Linked DNA regions of Homo sapiens. The protein of the gene in region 2 interacts with the protein of the main gene of each other region in a pairwise test. Each region holds a gene or a part of one and is shown on either strand. Other genes may lie near its edges. The genes, in order: ANKRD28, PPP6R2 and PPP6C.

The links.
Region 1: the proteins of PPP6R2 (region 2) and ANKRD28 interact in binary tests that used the Homo sapiens proteins (3 or more experiments, as listed by UniProt).
Region 3: the proteins of PPP6R2 (region 2) and PPP6C interact in binary tests that used the Homo sapiens proteins (3 or more experiments, as listed by UniProt).

What each region holds. Positions count from the first base shown.
Region 1 is NC_000003.12:15,682,946-15,690,055, reverse strand, and holds part of ANKRD28 (serine/threonine-protein phosphatase 6 regulatory ankyrin repeat subunit A), read left to right. Parts: coding exon 1-37; intron 38-167; exon of another isoform or gene 168-1,709; coding exon of another isoform or gene 1,710-1,745; intron 1,746-3,746; coding exon 3,747-3,834; intron 3,835-3,936; coding exon 3,937-4,054; intron 4,055-4,610; coding exon 4,611-4,830; intron 4,831-7,110. UniProt on the Homo sapiens protein: Regulatory subunit of protein phosphatase 6 (PP6) that may be involved in the recognition of phosphoprotein substrates. Involved in the PP6-mediated dephosphorylation of NFKBIE opposing its degradation in response to TNF-alpha.
Region 2 is NC_000022.11:50,416,313-50,423,422, reverse strand, and holds part of PPP6R2 (serine/threonine-protein phosphatase 6 regulatory subunit 2), read right to left. Parts: intron 4,557-7,110; coding exon 4,444-4,556; exon of another isoform or gene 4,434-4,443; intron 4,078-4,433; coding exon of another isoform or gene 4,075-4,077; coding exon 3,961-4,074; intron 1,170-3,960; coding exon 1,043-1,169; intron 1-1,042. UniProt on the Homo sapiens protein: Regulatory subunit of protein phosphatase 6 (PP6). May function as a scaffolding PP6 subunit. Involved in the PP6-mediated dephosphorylation of NFKBIE opposing its degradation in response to TNF-alpha.
Region 3 is NC_000009.12:125,179,763-125,186,872, forward strand, and holds part of PPP6C (serine/threonine-protein phosphatase 6 catalytic subunit), read right to left. Parts: intron 1-7,110.

The DNA.
Region 1 (7,110 bases), on a different chromosome or scaffold from region 2:
GATTACATTTTGAAGAGGACACCTATTCATGCAGCAGGTATGCCAGATATTATGCTTGATTTATTTATAACTTCTATCCAATACTTTTTTTCAATTTCTGATATATAATATTTCCAGTTAATTGTCTTTAAAATTTTGACCTTTTTTTTTTTCAAATCATATATGGATTATTTGACCTCACCAAATAACTTTATTCACACAAATGAATTTACAAAGCCTCCGTCATTCATAAACATTAGGAGTATCCCAGTGTTCAGGGAACTTAAATACAGTGTATTATATCAACCCAAGTAAACCAAGCACAAAAAATATTCATATAAAGTTGTTTACATGTAGGTCCTAGACTACCAGCTTCTGTGTGAAAAAGGAAATAAAAATAGATTTATTAACTAGTGTTTGAAACTAACTTTGTGCCTGGCTTAAAACCTCCCTCATGCTCCAGCCTGTCCCACACAAGTGTTTAAGAAGTCATTAAAACTGTCCTGCTCTCATGAAAAGAAGCTCCTCTGCACAAAAGATGTAAGTGCCCCCAAGTAGCTCCCTTCCTCCTGTGGCCTCTCTTGGAAAACAACCTTGGCAGCCTCCTTGCTGATACCTTCTGCAATTTTAGGGGCCCCTCAGGGGGCAGTGGCAGTGGATTCATCTTTTGATGATGGCTGCAGATGCTAACATTGGCCAATTCTATGTCACACCTACTGGTTACTCTTTGAAGGCATTTCTCCAGACAGAAGCCCCACTACCGTCAAAGCTTAGGTAGGGCAGGATCAGAGAGGCGCCTGTGTTGTTTTGAAGGTTGTGCTACAGCCTGGACTTATCTCTGGACTTCTCCCTCTAAAACCCAGTGGCCCAAAGAGCTGAAAAATGTCAGCTTGGCTCTTCAAAAGTTTCCAGACCCAAGGAGATTACCAAGAGCTACAACTGTCTGGGGAAATTTTTGACTTTAAGTGGTAAAATGATTGTATTCTCAGGGAATACCAACAACAAGACTATCATCACTTAAAACATTATCTGCCTTAGAAGTTGGGTTTATGTAATAATCTAACTTCTGAAACACTTTATCAACAAAACAATGCAGTATTTATTTCTTTCTGGTAGAAGTTATTTTGGATTGGTATAATCTTTCATTTAACAAGTGATACACGTTTTGACTTATTTTACCAGTGTACTGCATTAAACATTTATGCAGACAGGCTTTACAGAGCACTTTATGCAAGAACTATTCCATATTGTGATATTATGATGTAGCAGATACGTTAAAATACGAAGGTCTATAACCAAGTCAGTTAAATGACTTGCTACCCACTGCGTATCACTGGCAGATGCAGATTCACAACTCTCTATTTTTATAGAGTGATCCTTAAGAATACATTTGAATATATGTCTTGGATTTTTTTTCTAGTCCTTTGGGAAGCTTACATTTTAGAAGACTATTGATAACACCCACTGTTACTCCCAGAGCCGCCCTTCAAAGCTATCAGATGTTCAAGTGGGGCTGAGAAAAATATTTTAATAATACATTAGAACCTCTAATAAACATATATACACTACTATATGGTTTGAACAAGAGGTTAAAATGCATTACTTGCTGTTACCTTATTCTGAAAAAGAGTGAAGTTATATATCACTTTGCAAAGCCAAACTTGGTGGCGCATGCCTGTATTCCCACCTAACTTGGGAGGCTGAGGCAAGAGGGTCACTTGAGTTCAGTTTCATTGCACTCTAGGCAACATGATGAAACCCTGTTCCTAAAATATAAAATAAAAATCAATTTTGTACACTGGATGGGATCTGTGAAAAATAAGTACATTTTAAAAATATTAATCTATAGCTAGAAAAATTATAATTGCAGATCATATGCAGAACTAATTTAAAGCTTGCATGGAGTGGTTGCACTCTCAATAGGTAAATATTGAACTGAGACATTAGCCAGTCCCTTAGAAGTAGTTAACCAATGCCATATAGTTCAGCATAAATCCTACCCACAAAAAGAACCACAGGTTACTCTTAGTGCCTATCTATTCAATAAATGCAAGCCTTGTATCTATAGATGCCTTTCAAATTTGGAGGTCTATAGAGAGCATCTATAAGCCATGAAAAGAACACTGAGGGTTTTTTTTCCTGGAGGTTTACCAGTCATTTCCCACAGAGATGCTGTGCTTGCTGTTTGGGTATTGAACTTAGATGACACAAACATTCATCAGTAGCGACTGTGAACTGAGTGTAAATGAACTGATTTGAAAAATGATGGGCCAAACAAGTTCTTCTTGAACATCCCCAAGTGTTACGACCCTGTTTTTTGTTGCTAAGCTGTGAGAGCTGCTGGCAGAGTGCAGCATACAGATTGGACTAGGGTAGGAGAGGTGATTTAAGCCACAAGTTTAATAACTATTAGTATTTAATATAACTGTGGGAACATACTGTGGAATATTCAGCACCTAGCTTGCTTTTGCTAGTTTTGTCATCTTTTAATTAGAAGAAATAGTGATAGACGTTCTTTTCTGTATCATATGCAAGATACATTTTTTTCTAATGTATTTCTTTAAACTTCAGACTTTGTATATATTAACAGGACCTGAATTTTGCAGAGGATTTAACTTACTTCAAAAGCTCTTTTCTTTGGACTACTTCTACTTGTACCCTTGCCCATTTTATGCATTTGGACTTAACACATGCATTCTTTAGATGGATCATTTTTCTTGTACTGTATGTATATATATATATATCATTTGAAATTATTTCAGCCATAAATAACAGAGTACCCTACTGAAAATAGCTTAAGGGGTTTAGTGTCTCATATACAATGTCGAAAGGCAGGCTGGGCACGGTGGCTCATGCCTGTAATCCCAGCACTTTGGGAGGCCGAGGTGGGTGGATCATGAGGTCAGGAGTTCAAGACCAGCCATGCCTAGATGGTGAAACCTCATCTCTCCTAAAAATACAAAAAAAATCGCCGGGTGTGGTGGCAGGCGCCTGTAATCCCAGCTACTTGGGAGGCTGAGGCAGAGAATTGCTTGAACCCAGGAGGCGGAAGTTGCAGTGAGCCAAGATCACACCACTACACTCCAGCCTGGGCGACAGAGCGAGATTCTGTCTCAAAAAAAAAAAAAAAGCAATATCAGGCAGATGCAGTTCCAGGGTTGGTTGATTCTACAACGGTGTCAGAGCTCTGGATTAAATTCTGTTATTCTCTTACATTTGCATTCATGTTGTGGGATTATTGCTGCTGCTTTTAAGGATTGCATCTAAAATCAGGAAGGAATGGGGGCTTTTCATTATTAAAGATAAAAGTATTTCCCAGCAGCCTCTAGACTTATCGGCATCTCAGTAGTCAGACCTGGTTCCTGTGCTGCTCACCTTAAAACTGATCACTGTCAGAGGAGAATGGGGTTCTTGTGATTGACTTGGTCTAATCATGGTATCATCCCTTTGCTGGAGTCAAGGCACTCTTCCTGACCACATTGCCAGAGAGCTAAATAAAATGAGCATTCTTTTAGAGGCAGATGATAGGGCATGGGTGCTGGGTAGGCGGTCTGCCTGTCATGTTTTACTGTGAGGAATTCACATTTATTCCAGCTTTAACAGTCAAAGGCCGTAGAAACCTTCTTTTTACCTATAGTTTTCATTCTTGCATATTAAATTCAGTGCAACTATCCCAAAAGTAAATTCTAGAAGATGTGCTTTTAGATGGACATTTTCTATTTTATCATTATATGTAATTACTGAAATGTTTAAATTTCACTTTACAGCAACAAATGGTCATTCAGAATGCTTACGGCTATTAATAGGAAATGCAGAACCACAGAATGCAGTGGATATTCAAGATGGAAATGGACAGTAAGTTTCGATAAATAATTGTTGCATCACAGAAGGGCGTATTTCGAAAACCAGAGTACAGTCTTAAGTGACAGCACTGAACCTATTCCTGTTGTTGCTCAGGACGCCTCTGATGCTATCTGTTCTCAACGGGCACACAGACTGTGTTTACTCATTGCTGAACAAAGGAGCAAATGTAGATGCCAAAGATAAGTGGGGAAGGACAGCGTTGCATAGAGGGGTAAGCAGAAATATGCTCTTTCCTTTCAAAAAGCTTTTATGACCTCATATTACCTAGAACTGAACTAGGTTATGTTTATTTTTTCTTCATTAAATGTTCGTCAAATAGTCTTTACCATTTCTTTCAGTATCTTAGTTTTTAAATGCTAATTTTGAACAATTACAGAGTACAACTTAATCTAGAGAACAATGTTAGAACAAAATTTTAAAACTCTAAAACTTTTAGTAGAATTAATGTCAATTTGACTTTTTCCATTATCTCACTTATTTTCTTATACACTTTAATCTTTTTTCACCTTTGAAATATCATTATTTTCATTGAATACCAAGTTTCTCTCTTCCTGTTTTCATACTATTTGCATTTTAGAAGGGTTCTTGCTTTAACTGAATTTTTAAACCACTTCCAATAAAAATACAGAATTACTCATAAAATGATAAATGGCTTTAATTGATGGAAGGATATGGAGAGTATGGTCTTTAAAGTTTTTAATTAGCTGAAATTGGCATGTAATGTTTAGCATAATATGTTTGACTACCTTTAAATTATTTTCTTTCAGGCAGTTACAGGCCATGAAGAATGTGTAGATGCATTACTTCAACATGGTGCTAAGTGCTTACTTCGGGATAGCAGGGGCCGGACGCCTATACACCTGTCTGCTGCCTGTGGACACATTGGTGTTCTTGGAGCCCTTTTGCAGTCAGCAGCATCTATGGATGCAAATCCAGCCACAGCAGACAATCATGGATATACGGCACTTCACTGGGCTTGCTACAATGGTTAAGTATACAAACACAAATGCATATCATTGTGTAGTGAACAGAGATAAAAGAATGACATATTTATAAGGCAAATTTTAAGTTTAAAATTAGCAAAAACCTTGGGAATAATCTACTGTATAGGCTCACGTACTAATAATACTTAGTACGTAGGCTCACTCCTGTCCTTTGTCATGCTAAAGCCAAGACACTAGTTGTCAAAGGTGTTCTGAGATAAGCCATGAAGTATTTTTGAGGTTTTTCTTTTCTTTTCTTTTCTTTTTTAGTTTTGGTAGGATCTTGCTATGTTGCCCAGGCTGGTCTTGAACTCCTGGCATCAAGTGATCCTCCCACCTCAGCCTCCCAAAGTGTTGGGATTACAGGCATGAGCCACCATGTAGCCTGAAGTTTTTCTTAGATCCTTATTTCCACAAATATTTTGCATTTTTAGGAGGTTTTTAGAATGTTTCCATTGCTTTTATATAGTGTGCTTGTATTTTGATTGTGTTCTTTTACTATTTTTTTTTTTTTAAGAGTCCCACTATGTTGCCCAGGCTGGTCTTGAACAACTGGGCTTAAGCAATCCTCCCACATCAGACTCCCCAAGTGCTAGGATTACAGGCATGAGCCATTGCACCCAGCCATGTTCTTTTACTTTCTAAATACAATCATATTAGGGGAAAAATAACCAAAAGTAGGAGAAACAGTGAGATGTATCACATTCTAAACTGAAATCTATGTATGTTTTCTGAGCACATTGCAAGATAACATTCTTATATTACCAGTAATATCCATGTTCAATGTTTTAAAGGAATAAATCCCTAGCAGGTCTTAGAATTAGAAACTTTGATGGGTTAACTCTGCTACATGGTTAAAAGAGATTTTCTTTGGCCTCCTACAGGCTCACAGTCACAGTCATCGCTTTTATAGGTAGACTCATAAAAGGTCACGTAGGGAAGCATAAAGCTACTTTGAAGTTATAGATGTTAAAAATGCAGTTTGGCTTATGAAATGCCACTAATTAAAATAATTTATGCAATGAAGCATGTTGAGATATTTTTAGATTTGATCATCTTAGAAAACTCAAGTACATTATATACAGTGCAAGCATCAGTGTTGTCAAAGTTCAAGCTTCAGGCTTTAGTAGAGAAATTAGAGGTTTTTAAAATTTGTTTTCAATTTCAGTGTAGCTTCAAGATTAATGTTAATTATGACAGCAGATCTACAAAGCTGTAGTTCACAATTCTAATAACCTTCCCTCAAAATGCAGAGAAAATATAAGTTGTCTCTTTATATAAATACCCATTTGCTAAAAATAAATAAGTATAATATCTGTTGTAAAATCAGACTGCCTTACCAGGAAGTTGAGATTTCCTATCTTTCTATAATATGCTGTTTCATAGTTCTTTCACTGGGAGCTGTTCTGACAAAGTTATCAAGTTAAAGCAAAAGAGGAAAAAGCTGAATCTTGTAAAATTATAACTTCATTAAATGTTTCCACAAGTATTTCTGAGATACAATATTTTGATTTTCATATTAGTCCTTATGCCAAAGTTGGGAGTTGTATTCTTTTGCCGTTAGAACATTTTGGGTTCTTGAGGTTTGTCCTGTTATACTGTTGGTTATCCTTCAGCTGAGTACTGATAGCACCATAAAAACTTGAATAGTTAAATCTGTTGCTCATTGAACAAGCTAGTTTAGTCTCTTTGTTTTTTACTACCTTAAATCCTTAACCAAAACAGTTTTGAAAACTATAAAACCTTTGGGGTTTAACTTCTCTTTTTCCCATTTCTACTCGCTAAGGCAAGTAGAAATGAGTGTAGTGAAGTGGCCAGAGACTAGTACTCATACTAGAACAAAGAAGATACTGTATTTTGCCATTGATGTTTGATTTGTTTCTGTAATGTGACTTGACATTTTACAAGTATAAGGAAAACCCAAAATATCTAATATAGTGGGAAAATATCTACAATTGTGAGTTGTGTTTCTGTAAAAAAGTCAGTGAGATAAAACTGTTCAGAAGCAAAGACTTACTGCTTGGTTTTTAAAAAAATATATCCCTGAAGATTAACCATTGGAAAAATCACACAGTGAGATATTTTTCCTCAGGAAGAGCATTTAGTTGTAAATGTACTGCTGTAACTGTCCTTTGGAGAGTTGCTTTCTATTACAGTGTTTGTTATCAGATCTATATGTAGAACATTTTCCCTAAAGTGAGTTCCTACTCTATCACTGCTAAATTTAGACTCTAAGCACGTTTTGTGCAAGAGACAGAATTTTGCAAGAACTGCATGCCTGGTT
Region 2 (7,110 bases):
GCAGTGAGGCCACTGCTGGAGTCTCTGGGCTCATGCCCATCACTCTAGGCTGGGACCCAGCCTGGGGTAGCGAGGTATGTGGTGGGGGTTCCTCAGGGAGGGCCGTCTGCCAGAAGAAATGAAGGCATCAATGGGGTGAAGAGCCTGCTGCTCCCCTCAGGGCTTCAGAGAGTGCTCCCAGGATGCTCACGGGCACTCCAGTCTGAGCCTGCAGGGCCAGAGAGCCGTGCACCTCAGCGGGTGAGATGTCCAAGATGGGGCCAGCAGTACCGGTCTAAGGCCAGAGCCCTTGGCACGATGCCTCACTGAGGATGCCCAGTGGGGGTCCCTCTGCGGCCACAATCTCAGAACACCAAGCTAACAAGTGTCCCATGAACACACTTTGGGGACACTGACGGGAATGCCTCCTCCGATGGACCGCGGTCTTTTCTGATCCCCCACACTCAGCCTACTGCACCTACCTTCTCTTCACTGAAACCTCCAGCTGACAAAACAGAATCTTGGCCCCCACAGAGCTCGCTAGTGGGACAGGTGGATCTTACCAAGGTGGCGAGTGAGAGGAACTGAGCTATAGGTCAGGAGGGTGCTATGCAGCAGGGGTCGGGTTGTGTCTGGGGAGGGTGAGACGGGATGGGGAGTTGCCTGGCTGGCAGTCTGAACCAGGAGGAGCCTTTGTGTGCCTCACCCCCCTCAACATGCTGCTGAGCAGGGCAAAGGGCCTCCCCTGCCACCCCCTGGTCCCCTCTCAGGAGCCGAGCACCCCTTAGCTAGGTGCCCCCAACTTGGAGGCCAGGCTTATGGTGACCTCGGGGTCATTTGCAGAGGCAGAGATGAGCATTTGCAGATCTGGGAGGGGCAGTCCTGAAAATGTGTTTTGGCACCTGCCCGGTGCTTCTCAAGTGGGGGTGTGGGAATGGCCGTCTTAGAACACATTCACTCCACACTCTGCTACCTATGGGACAAGCTGTGGCTTCTCCTCCCTGCAAATCAACCTCTCCTGCGACGCCTCCAAAGGCACTCAGCAGTCGCCACGGCCATTTACCTTGGGCGGGTTGAGCAGGAGCTGGTGGAAGTCCTTCAGCCGAGGCTCGATGCCGTGTAGTACGCTGCTGCTGACAGCGTATGACCTTTCCAGTCCCTGAGAAAAGGAGTCCACCAAGCCCTCTGTCCTGTGGATGAGGAAAGCAGATGGAGACCGGGGACACCAGGACCCTGTCCAACCTCACCAGCAACTCAGTGCACCCGCTTCTTCCAGAAAGAGCCCTTTTAACTTTCCCAAAAAGAAACCCTAGAGCAGTGCAGCTACCCAGCGTCTCCACACGTGATCTGGTGACTGGTACAGGCAGAAGAGAAAGGTACTAAAGACCTTCAGGCAGATGCTTGCTTGCGACATCCGAGAATATGGAGGCAGGGCAAGTGACACAACACAGGACTCACTGGCCCTAGCACCAGTTAGAGGTCCTGCTCTGTCCCACTTTTAAAACCTTCACTGCTATCCCTGTCTCTTTCACTGTTCCTGTGTCGACTTTTATTTTTATTTATTTTTATTTTTTTTGAGCCAGAGTCTCGCTCTGTCACCCAGGCTGGAGTGCGATGGTGCGATCTTAGCTCACTGCAACCTCCACCTCCTGGGTTCAAGCGATTCTCCTGCCTCAGCCTCCTTTTTGTATTTTTAGTAGAGACAGGATTTTGCCATGTTGGCCAGGCTGGTCTCGATCACCTGACCTCAGGTGATCCACCCGCCTTGGCCTCCCAAAGTGCTGGGATTACAAGCGTGAGCCACTGCGCCTACCCCCTGTGGTGTTTTCAAGCAAGTCTTCTGAGATATTTATTTAAACACTCTTTCCAGTTGTAAAAGTAATACGTAATCATATATTTTTTAAAGTAATATGCAAAATAATTTTAAAAATCAGAGAGCCAGGTGCAGTGGCTCACACCTATAATCCCAGCACTTTGGGGGGGACAGGTGGGAGGATCGCTTGAGCTCAGGACTCTGAGGCCACGCTGAGATATGATCGTGCTGCTGTACTCCCACGTGGGTGACAGAGCAAGACACTGTCTGAAAATAATAATAATAATAATCACAATAATCTAAGAGAAACAGCTGGCTTATCTCTGTTTTCCTGATTTTTACACAGTCCCCTCTATCACATACAGGGTTAAGCTTGGGCCTCAGAAGTGGCTCAGCTTTCCTGGGTTTATGAAGATTAAAATATCAATATTCCAGTTGCCTAACTAGAGAAAACGGTAACATTATAACACTACTTCTGGTTAATAAACTAACAAATATGTATTAGGTACTACCAGAGACAGACAGAGAGAGAGAGAGAGAGAGAAAGAGAGTCCTAACAACCTCACTATCAAGGTTAAGTCAATTTCTTATCATTTTCTCATTGTTCCTTTTTCTTTCACTTTAAAAAAGCACAGGCTATCAGTGTTGGGGGCTGAATTATGTTCTCCCCAGAACGTGGAAATAAGGGAGCTACGGCCACCTTGGGAGAGTTAGACATCGTCCCAGCCTGTGATGGAACGGAGACGACGGAAACGTCCTGAGACATCAGGTTCCTGCCGGCATGTGGGGAACCTGAATCCAGAGATGGGGTTCAAGGGCCAGGGTGAGGCCAGGAGGGGAAGTGCCCAGAGGACACTGATGTGGCCCTTTTGGGACACACCCTATAGGATCTCCTGGGCACCTGGCGGGCCAACCACACCCCCTTGTGCCAATGCCTCCCTCACAGACTCCACTCGGCTGTCTTTCCATTTGCGCCTCATGGGCATCCTCTTTGGAGTTTCAACTGCTTGAACGGCTCTGGCAGTGCCCAGCCTTCTATGACTTGAGGGAAGGACTAGGCCACACTATGATCCAGAGAAACAGTTTCAAACACTTCCTGAAATTTCTACTGGGGGTCAGAGAAGGGTCTCCAGCACCTATATCCTCAAACAAACTCAACTTTCACCCGAACTCACTCTTCTGCTGCTGACTCCTCTGTCTCTGCCCATTCACTGTCGTGACTCAGCAGCCTCCGACAGCTGCACCTCAGGACAGCGATGTGGGGTCACAGCAAAGGAGCACCTCCAAGCAAGCTCCACTCTCCTCTGCCACATACTGCCCCATGCTTGTGTCCACACTGGGACCCCCTCACTGCCTCATCCAAGGAGCTGTGTCTGACCAGATGCGGCCTCTCAGGGAAAATGTCCCTGACTGCGAGGCTCCACCCACCAGCCCCATGTGGGTCCCTTCTTGTGAGCCCCGAGGCACTGGGTGCATGTCTACTGCACTCGCCACTCTGCATCACCCTCGCTGTCCACAGACGGGCCTCCTGTGCCAGACTGGGAGCAATTAAAGGGGAGGGGCTGTGTCTCAGTTCTCTGTCTCCTCGGGCCCGTGTTAGTGCACAGTGGGTGCAGAAATGACACCTGATGAATGAGAAAGGGCAATGGAGGAGAGTCGCCTGGGAAAAAAGTGCTCAGCACGACGCTCAGCAGGCGGTGCCGACCCGTGGGTGCACAGGGCACGGGAGACAGCGGTGAGTGTCACACCCCTGCCCTGTGAGGGCCAGTCTGCATGGGAGATAAACACATGTATATGTAACCATGCATCAGAGTGGAAACCCTGCGACACACACACAAACACACACGGGAGCTGTGGGGACTTGTCGGAACAGTCCTTGGGGAAAACCTGCCAACCACACCTGTTCCACGCACATCGACAAATGCATCGCCAACTGGTCGTGACGAGCAGCTTCAGGCTGGAGAGGGAGCACCAGTGATGATGAGGGTCTAAGGGGACTTGGCCACAGCCATAAAGTCAAGCCTTCAACAAGGGGAATCTATCCATGTTGTTACTTGCATAATCAAAAATTAAAACCACAAATGACATAATCCAGACTGCTCGTGTGGGCTGCCATATCACTGAGGCGTCAAGTTCAGCTCTACACGATTTCTCCTCGTGAGACTCACCCAACCCGCCTGGTTTCCAGCAAGGTGAGTAACACCTGAGTCCCACTGACGAGGCAGCTCTCCGTCCGGTCTCCATCAAACATGTTCTTCAGAAGCTGCTCCACACAGTCCTGCCTGCTGGACACACACAGAGGTCACTGCCTGGCAGAGCAGACACACACACAAAGGATGCAAGGATGCTCCTTCCTCCCCGTGGAGGACCCCAGCAAAACCCTCAACCTGCTCAGGCTCAAGGCAAGGCGCCAGGGTTCTCAGGACACTCCTGCTGCTGCTGGCCCACTCTCTAGACCCACCAGGTGACTCCTCTGGAGACCCCTCCCTCTGGAAACAGGCCCCAAGTTAACATGGGCTCTGAACCTGGGGTTCATTCGAATGTGAATCAGAGGAGGTGGCAACATATCCTGGTGCTCAGAGCAAGGCTCACAGACGTCCCCATGACCCAGAAAGGGAGGCCCACCAGCACCACGGCCCACCAGCACTCACGACTCCAGCGCTGTGAGGAGCGGGTCTGGCTCCAGAGCCTCTTGCAGCTGACTGCCCTGGTCTCTGCCCAGCCTAACTATGTCACAGAGAGTCTGAGAAGCATTTGACTGCCTCTGAAAAGACAAGGGAAACACAGAGTCCCTCAGTGTGGAGAAGAAACAGCAGGACCAGCCCTGCTGGGCACACAGGGCACAAGTCCTGCTGCTTCTCTGGCAGATGCTAGACTTTCGTTGTTGTTCAATACCACTGTGATGTTCAAATACTTTTTCTTTTTTTTTAAGATGTGGGACTTTTGGCCAGGCACAATGGCTCAGGCCTGTAATCCTAGCACTTTGGGAGGCCAAGGCAGGCAGATCATCAGGTCAGGAGATCAAGACCATCCTGGCTAACACGGTGAAACCCCATCTCTACTAAAAATACAAAAAATTAGCCGGGCGTGGTGGCGGGTGCCTGTAGTCCCAGCTACTCGGTTGGCTGAGGGCAGGAGAATGGCTTGAACCTGGGAGAAGGAGCTTGCAGTGAGCCAAGATCGCACCACTGCACTCCAGCCTGGGTGACAGAGCGAGACTCCATCTCAAAAAAAAAAAGAAAAAGATGTGGGACTTTCTCTAAACCAGTTTCCTACAAAGAAAGATTCCAGACAACAGCTTCATTTCAAAGAAGCCTGTGTCTGCCTTTTCTGTCGTCAAAATGTAGATCTGGTTAGAGTTTTCTTTTTTTTAAAGCTGCATTGAACTATCTTCAGGAATTCAAAACAGGGCTAATAATGGTCAGATATGCAATGCAGATACTGGGCTATACCTGTGATCCACGTTTTGAAATATGCTGAATATGTGGCCATGTTACTGATACTATATTTTAAATGTGGTAATAAGTAGCTGCTATTATTCAGAATGAGTCCTGTAAGCTAATGAAAATAGGGAAGTTGCTACCAAGAAAACAGAGGACTCATCTTTTCTAGGGAAACATTAACACGCAATCCGTGATGGGAACGTGCCCCTGCTGACAATGTAGGGCTGTTCTGTAGGTAAGACAAATGTGATTAAGAGAGAAACAACCCCTGACTCCCTGCAGCATTGGTTCACATGCTGTGGGAAGACTGAGGGAAAGCAAACACTCACAGGAGTATTTTAGGGAGAAAAGAAAGCAGCCAGATTAGCTCTCAGGTCTGCCTTTGGGACCCAGGCCAGGCCATCAGCCCACAACACCCACATGCATGGGTGGGCTCCAGTTCTCAGGCAGGGCGGCCTCCTTGCTTCCTACAGACGCCAACATCAGGCAGGGCGGCCTCCTTGTTTCCTACAGACGCCAACGTGGCCTCTCCTGTCTGTCTGATCAGCCCTGTGGGCTGATGGAGAACAAAGTAGGGTGGTTGGCCAGGCAGCGGTGAAGGCCTCAGACACGAGTCAGCACCACTGTTTTCCAATCTGCCAAGGACACGTGGTTGTATGTATAGATCGGTATGTGTAATGCTAGGAAAAGGCCTACTGGGATATACCCCAAACTCTCAACAGGGATCACCACAGGGAGCCCCATTGTCACCTTAGGTGCTTCCAGGGTGGGTGGCTCCTAGGGGGCCCCTAGCAATCCCGTCCTGGAGTTCATGCCTTTATAGCCCCCATCTCTTTTAGTGTGGGCTGGACCCAGCCACCCAGGTCTAAAGAGCCAAATACATTAAGAGTGAGGGGAAAGCTCAGCTCCACGTTGTGTGCTGCCCTGTGGAGACGCCCATGTGGTGCAATGCTGAGGGCGGCCTCGGCCCACAGCCCTGAGGAACTGGATGCTGCCAAGCCATCTGTGACCATGGAGCTGGCCTCTACCCCAGTGGAGCTCTGAGATGACTGTATTTTGTGAGACTCAACAGAAGAGCCACTAAGCCACATTCAGACGCCTGATCCACAGAAACTGATACTGCTACAGGTAAAAATACTTGCCATAAGCAACTACATTTCAGGGTAATTTGCTATTCGGTCACAGACGACTGATACAATTCTATTAGAATTGTTCTTTGGTTTGCTTGTTTGTTGAGACAGAATCTCACTGTCGCCCAGGCTGGAGCACAGTGGTGTGATCTCGGCTCACTGCAAGCTCCCCTTCCTGGGTTCAAGTGATTCTTGTGCCTCAGCTTCCTGAGTGGCTGGGATTACAGGCACCTGACACCACACTTCGCTAATTTTTAGTAGAGACAGGGTTTCGCCACGTTGGCCAGGCTGGTCTCAAAACTCCTGACCTCAAGTGATCGGCCCGCCTCAGCCTCCCCAAGTGCTGGGATTACAGGCATGAGCCACCGCGCCTGTCCTATTTTTATAATACACATAGATTATTTTTCAGTTAAGAAAAAAAAGTGTAGGCCAGGCATGGTGGCTCACTCCTGTAACCACAGCACTTTAGGAGGCTGAGGTAGGAGGATCACTTGAGGCCAGGTTTTTGAGACCAGCCTGAGCAATGTAGTGAGACCTCATCTCTATTTAAACAACAACAACAACAAGAAGAAAACAGCCTAGAGGCTGGGTGTGGTGGCTCACCCGACTGGGTGAGCAGGAGAATTGCTTGAACCCAAGAGGCGGAGGTTGTGGTGAGCCGAGATTGCACCACTGCACTCCAGCCCAGGCAACAAGAGCGAAACGCCATCTCAAAAAAAAAAAGAAAAAAAAAATCCAGCCTAGA
Region 3 (7,110 bases), on a different chromosome or scaffold from region 2:
CTCCTGCCTCAGCCTCCCAAGTATCTGGGATTACAGGCACCTGCCACCACACCCAGCTAATTTTTATATTTTTAGTAGAGATGGGGTTTCACCACGTTGGCCAGGCTGGTCTCGAGCTCCTGACCTCAGGTGATCCACCCGCCTCAGCCTCCCAAAGTGCTAGGATTACAAGTGTGAGCATCACACCCAGCCCGAATATAATTTTTTAAAACAACTATTGCAACATAATTCACCTACATAAAATGCATCCCTTTGAAGGGTAAGAGTCAATGGTTTTCATTATATTCACAGTGGTGGCAACCATCACCATAATCAATTTTAGGACACTTTCATCACCCCAAAAAGAAACCATATACACATTAGCAGTCACTCCCCTCATCCCCATACCAACACCCCACAGCCCTATGTATTACCTCATAAATAATAATAATCACAACCTTGACCACAACCACTCAATCCAGTTAGTCCTTGTGGATAGACGGCTGTCTTTCCAGTCAATTTCAAAATATCAGTGTTGCACAGCATCCTACTTCTATTAATAATCCATTAGACCTATGATACATATTTATTTTTATAATAATTAGCATCCAAAGTTTGCAACCTATTTGCATTAAAGAACAAATATGCCAGGAACTGATGAATGATTCTAAGTTTGGCCTGTAATTTTTTCTTTTTTTGAGATGGAGTTTCGCTCTTGTCACCCAGGCTGCAGTGCAATGGCGTGATCTTGGCTCACTACACCCTCCGCCTCCCAGGTTCAAGCGATTCTCCTGCCTCAGCCCCCCAGTAGCTGGGATTACGGCACACGCCACCATGCCTGGTTAATTTTTGTATTTTTAGTAGAGACAGGGTTTCGCCATGTTGGCCAGGCTGGTCTCAAACTCCTGACCTCAGGTGATACACCCACCTTAGCCTCCCAAAGTGCTGGGGTTACAGGCGTGAGCCACTGTGTCTGGCCGGTTCCCATATTTCAATGTGCCAGAATTTTCGCTGACATGTAACTGGTTCTCCTAGTCCATAAGGCCTCCTAAACTTGAAGTCATCCCTGGTTATCACCCCATACACTATGTGCTAGCCTGAAAATAACAGTGGACTATAAACTGAAGAACATCGCTGTGAAACTCTGTCAATCTGAAAGATTGAGTGTCTGGAGAACACGTGTAAACTACCTAGCAGCAGCCTTCAACCAGGGCCCAGGCACACTAACTAGAGTAAAATTACAGCTGCGTCCTACGACTGCCACCTCTGCTGACCCCAACTGAGGATTTAGAGAGCTATGTCTCTAAGCCAAAGCTATTGCCTCTCATCTCTAGTTTGGCAGTAGCTTACAAATCGCTATCACGCGCACACAAAAATAAGAAGTCTATGCAATCTCACTATAAACGCTACGTGACTCAATCAACTACACTCACAGCGGCCTCAAAGAGCCCTGCCTTGTCATCATAGTAAAGACACATGCTCCTCTCCTCCCAAACCCTTTACAGCTTTATCCCAAATTTAGGGTAAACTATACCCCTTTCTCCTCATCGTGCCCAAATATTTTTTCTTTCTTTTTTTGTGTTCTGTTTTCTATTTATTTATTTTTTATTATACTTAAGTTCTGGGACACATGTGCAGAACGTGCAGGTTTGTTACTTAGGTATCCACGTGCCATGGTGGTTTCCTGCACCCATCAACCCATCATCTACAATCGGTATTTCTCCTAATGATATCCCTCCCTTTACCCCGGACCCCCTGACAGGCCCCAGCATGTGATGTTCCCCTCCCCTCTGCCCATATGTTCTCATTGTTCAACTCCCGCTTACGAGTGAGAACATGCGGTGTTTCGTTTTCTGTTCCTGTGTTAGTTTGCTGAGAATGATGGTTTCCAGCTTCATCCATGTCCCTGCAAAGTATTCCATGGTGTATATGTGCCACATTTTCTTTAACCAGTCTATCATCGATGGGCATTTGAGCTAGTTCCAAGTCTTTGCTATTGTGAATAGTGCTGCAGTAAACATGCAAGTGCATGCATCTTTATAGTAGAATGATTTATAATCCTTTGGGTATATACCCAGTAATGGGATTGCTGGGCCAAATGGCATTTCTAGTTCTAGATCCTTGAGGAATCGCTACACTGTCTTCCACAACAGTTGAACTAATTTGCACTCCCACCAACAGTGTAAAAGTGTTCCTATTTCTCCAAATCGTCTCCAGCACCTGTTGTTTCCTAACTTTTTAATGATTGCCATTCTAACTGGCGTGAGATGGTATCTCATTGCGGTTTTGATTTGCATTTCTTTAATGACCAGTGCTCTTTTTCATATGTTTGGTGCCCAACTACTTTCTAATCCTTGAACAGGAAGGGGTTCATAGCCATCATTCTTAGCAGACCTCTATGTCTCTTCTCTACCTTTTCCTCAAGACATTTGTTCACAGTTCCATTCTATTCTCTGTTCTGTCTCCCAGTTCCCTCTTGCCCTCACAAACACTGGGTTCTAAACTTTTAAAATTACTTGTTTAGTTGATCTTGTTATCTAAAACATACTACTTCCTTTATCTACTTTTACATACTGGTATTTATAAAACACTCTTAGCTTTAAAAAAAAAGATCTCACTGCCAGGTGTGGTGGCTCACACCTGTAAAATGAGCATTTTGGGAGGCCAAGGCAAGAAGATGGCTGGAGGCCCAGAGCTCAAGACTAGCTTGGGCAACATAGCAAAACCTCATCTCAACTAGCTAGCTAAGTAACTAACTAAATAAATATCTAGCTAACATTATATTTCACACAGTCTTTATATAAAGTCTCTACTATAATACAGATCACTGGGAATGAGAAGTTAGAAATCTGGAATGACCATGATATTCACACGCTTATGATCCAGAAGGTAGTATCTGTATCCTCAGGCCAGATCAGAGTTTCTCAACCATGGCACTACTAATTATTCATTGCAGGGGACTGCTTGCTGTCTTGTGGATGTTTAGCAAAATCTCCGACATCTACGCCTACTAGATACCCATAGTAACTTCCCACCCCTCCCCTGACCCAGCTGTGACAACCAAAAATGTCTCCAGACACTGCCAAAAATTCTTTGGGGGGCAAAATTGCCCCCAGTTGAGAACGACTGGTCTAGATCTTTCTCCTGCGTTTAATACTATTAGAACAGTGTTTAGAGCACATTTGGCAATCAACAAGTAGTTGTTATCTAAGTAACATAAGTATCCAAGAGTAATTCTGGACACCTCTATCTCAATGTCTTAGCTTGGCAGCATCTCAAACTCAATATGGCCCAAACCAAACTTCCCGTATTCCTTAATCTAGTTATAGTACTAAGTAATCCTTGCCAGAAACTAAAAAATTATGCTAAACTCTCTTCATCATAACCTAGACCAAATCTGTTAACAGGTGCCACTATACCTTCTTCATTTCCTTTCCAACACAACAATCACTTATCATTGCCTTATCTCAGACTCTCATATCACCGGGCCTACTGCTTCTATGACATTTTTCCTGCATTCCAATCCATGGTCCACAATGCTGCCAGAATAAACATTTCAAAAGCCTACTGTCATTCTCCTTCTTAAAAACTCCTCAAGCGTATTCCTCCATTTATGGCAGTGTTTCCCAAACACCAAATACCATTTTCATTATTTTGTCATATTCCTACCACATACAACAGTGTATCCCTGTAATAATTTTCTTTGAATCTACTTTTATTTTTAGTTAGCTACATTTTAAACAGTATCACGAATCACAGTATGATTTTTCCCTAAAATATAAAAACATTTCATAGTGTTCATGCACCACCTAAAAAATAACAATCTAAGTTTAACAGCCTACTCTTCTATGATTTGGCATCTTTCTTTCCAGTACCACCTCCAGCCATACCAAACCACTTCAAGTTCCCCGAACCAGCCATGTTCTTGCAAATTACATTATACTATTGCACATGGTGTTTATTCTGTTTGCATGTTCTTTCCTTCTCATTTTGTCTACCTGAACTCTGCCCCTCGTAACTGCTCCTTTATGAAATCATCTCTGACTCTAAAGTTACATACTGCTTCTTCTGTTTGCCAACACCCTGGTCAGCCTCTATTACAGTCTTTGTTTACCTCCTTACCTCCCTTACTATATTGAAAGCCCCTCAAAGGCAGACACAAGTATCCAATTCTGCCCCTGGCACCCACAGGGAACAGTACTCAACACAAGGAACCATGTAAATAAGTGTTTGTTGGCTGGGCACAGTGGCTCACACCTATAATCTCAGCATTTTGGGAGGCCAAGGCAGGAGAATCACCTGAAGCATTTGGGACCAGCCTGGACAGCATAGCAAGACGCTATCCCTTAAAAAAATTTTTTTTTTGCCAGGCGCGGTGGCTAACGCCTATAATCCCTGCACTTTGGGAGGCCAAGGCGGGTGGATCACGAGGTCAGGAGATTGAGACCATCCTGGCAAACACAGTGAAACCCCATCTTTACCAAAAATACCAAAAAACTAGCCAGGCATGGTGGCATGCATCTGTAGTCCCAGCTACTTGGGAGGCTGAGGCAGGAGAATTGTTTGAACCCAGGAGGCAGAGGTTGCAGTGAGCCGAGATCGCGCCATTACACTCCAGCCTGGTGACAGAGTGAGACTCCATCTCAAAAATAAAAATAATAATTAATCAGCTGGGCACACTATTGCACACCTGTACTCCCAGCTACTTTTGAGGCTGAGGCAGAAGGATCAATTGAGCCCAGGAGTTTGAGGTTGCAGCAAGCTACAACTGCACCACTGCACTCCACCCTGGGCAGCAGACTGAGACCCTACCTCAAAGAAAAAAAAAAAAAGAAGAAGAAGAAACAAGTATTTGTCATAAAGCAGTAAACAGTTTGAGTCAATAAACCTTTACTGATTATCACATACAGGGCAGTGTTCTAAAATTGTGGAAAACACAAATAAGGAATGGCCAAACACAGTGGCTCACATCTGTAATCCCAACACTTTGGGAGGCCGAGGTGGGCGGATCACCTGAGGCCAGAAGTTCGAGACCAGCCTGGCCAACATGGTGAAACCCCATCTCTACCAAAAAATATATATATACAAAAATTAGCTGGGTGTGGTAGTGCGCACCTGTAATCCCAGCTGAGGCAGAACTGCTTGAACCCAGGAGGTGGAGACTGCAGTGAGCTGAGATGGTACCACTGTACTCCAGCCTGGGCAATAGAGTTAGATTCAGTCTCAAAAAAAAAAAAAAAAAAAAAACCTCAGGTAAACATGTCACCCTTAAGAACTGTCCAAGAGATTAGACAACCTCCAAGTTATAGAACCCCTGCTCCCCAAAAATATTAATACTTAAATATAAGTATTCAGTAAACCTGCCTTTATCATTAATTCTTCCATTTAGCCAGGTATGGAATCTGTATCTTTTATTAATCTCTCTGAAATCTTTCTTGTGGATAAAATCACATGAGCTCTTTATAAGAAAGGTTACACTGTGGTCCATTTACTTTCACATATGTCATTTTTTTTTTTTTTTGAGACAGGGTCTCGCTCTGTTGGCCAGGCTGGAGTGCAGTGGCATGATCTCGGCTCACTGCAACCTCCATCTCCCAGGCTCAAGCAATTCTCCTGCCTCAGCCTCCCGGCCCACATATGTCATTCTTATTCCTTCAAAACTGTTATGTATGCCAGGCATGGTGGCTCACGCCTGTAATCCCAGCACTTTGGGAGGCTGAGAAGGGTGGATCACCTGAGGTCAGGAGTTTGAGACCAGCCTGGCCAACATGGTGAAACCCCATCTCTACTAAAAATACAAAAATTAGCCAGGAGTGGTGGTGGGTGCCTGTAATCCCAGCTACTCAGGAGGCTGAGGCAGGAGAATCGCTTGAATCCGGGAGGCGGAGGTTGCAGTGAGCTGAGAACGTGCACCTGCACTCTAGCCTGGGCAACAGAGCAAGACTCCGTCTCAAAAAAACAAACTAACAGGCCAGGCTCACACCTATAATCCCAGCACTTTGGGAGGCCGAGGTGGGTGCATCATCTGAGGTGAGGAGTTCGAGACCAGCCTGAACAACATGGGGAAACCTGGTCTCTACTAAAAATACAAAATTAACTGGGCGTGGTGGCACATGCCTGTAATCACAGCTACTCAGGAAGGCTGAGGCAGGAGAATCGCTTGAACCCGGGAGGCAGAGGTTGCAGTGAGCCAAGCTCACGCCATTGCACTCCACCCTGAGCAACAAGAGCGAACAAACAAACAAAAACAGTTATGTAGATTTGATCCAGTACTAGTGATGTGACCATTTCCAACTTAGCGAAACAGAAATTGTGATTAAATCTGGAACATCGTATGCATTTAGTATTTTATCTTCTAATCAATTTAAAACACAAGTAAATTTCTGTCTTCTTTTCTACAGAACAAATCTTTTCCATCTTGCTCATTAAGTGGCCTCAATGATTACTTTTCTTAATAGAATGTTTTATTTTGCCTTTACAGCCTCAGAAAAAGTACTCCTGGCATACTTTCTTGGCCTAATTTTAGGTTGCACTTCATGCCAAGAAACAGAAAAAAATTAAATTTCTTTAAATACACCAGAGATGAGCAACACAACAAATTAATCTGATAAAAGCATTTCCAAGACAGAAAAAAAAGTCTCTACCTATAAAGAAAAATTCAGAATACTTTTGTCTTGGTTGCCCAAAACATATATTTTTAAGTTTATTAAGAAATGGATACAGGCCAAGTATAGTGGCTCATGCCTGTTATCCCAGCATTTTGGGAAGCCAAGGTGGGAGGATCGCTTGAGCCCAGGAGTTCAAGACTGGCCTGGGTAACATAGCAAGACCCTGTCTCTACCAAAAAAATAAATAAAAATTAGCTGGTCATGGGGGCATGTGCCTGTGGTCCCAGCTTCTCAGGAGGCTAAGGTGGGAGGACTGCCTGAGCCCAGGAGGTCGAGGCTGCAATGAGCCATGATTGTGCCACCACACTACAGCATGGGTGAGAGTGAGACCATGTCCCCGCTCCCCCACCAAAAAAAAGATTAAAAATTTTTTTAAGAAAAAAAAAGAAACAAATACAAGTCAAGTACAATGCAGCTATGTTTCAACAAGAAATAAAATGGTCTAAAAATTGTACTTCCTTAA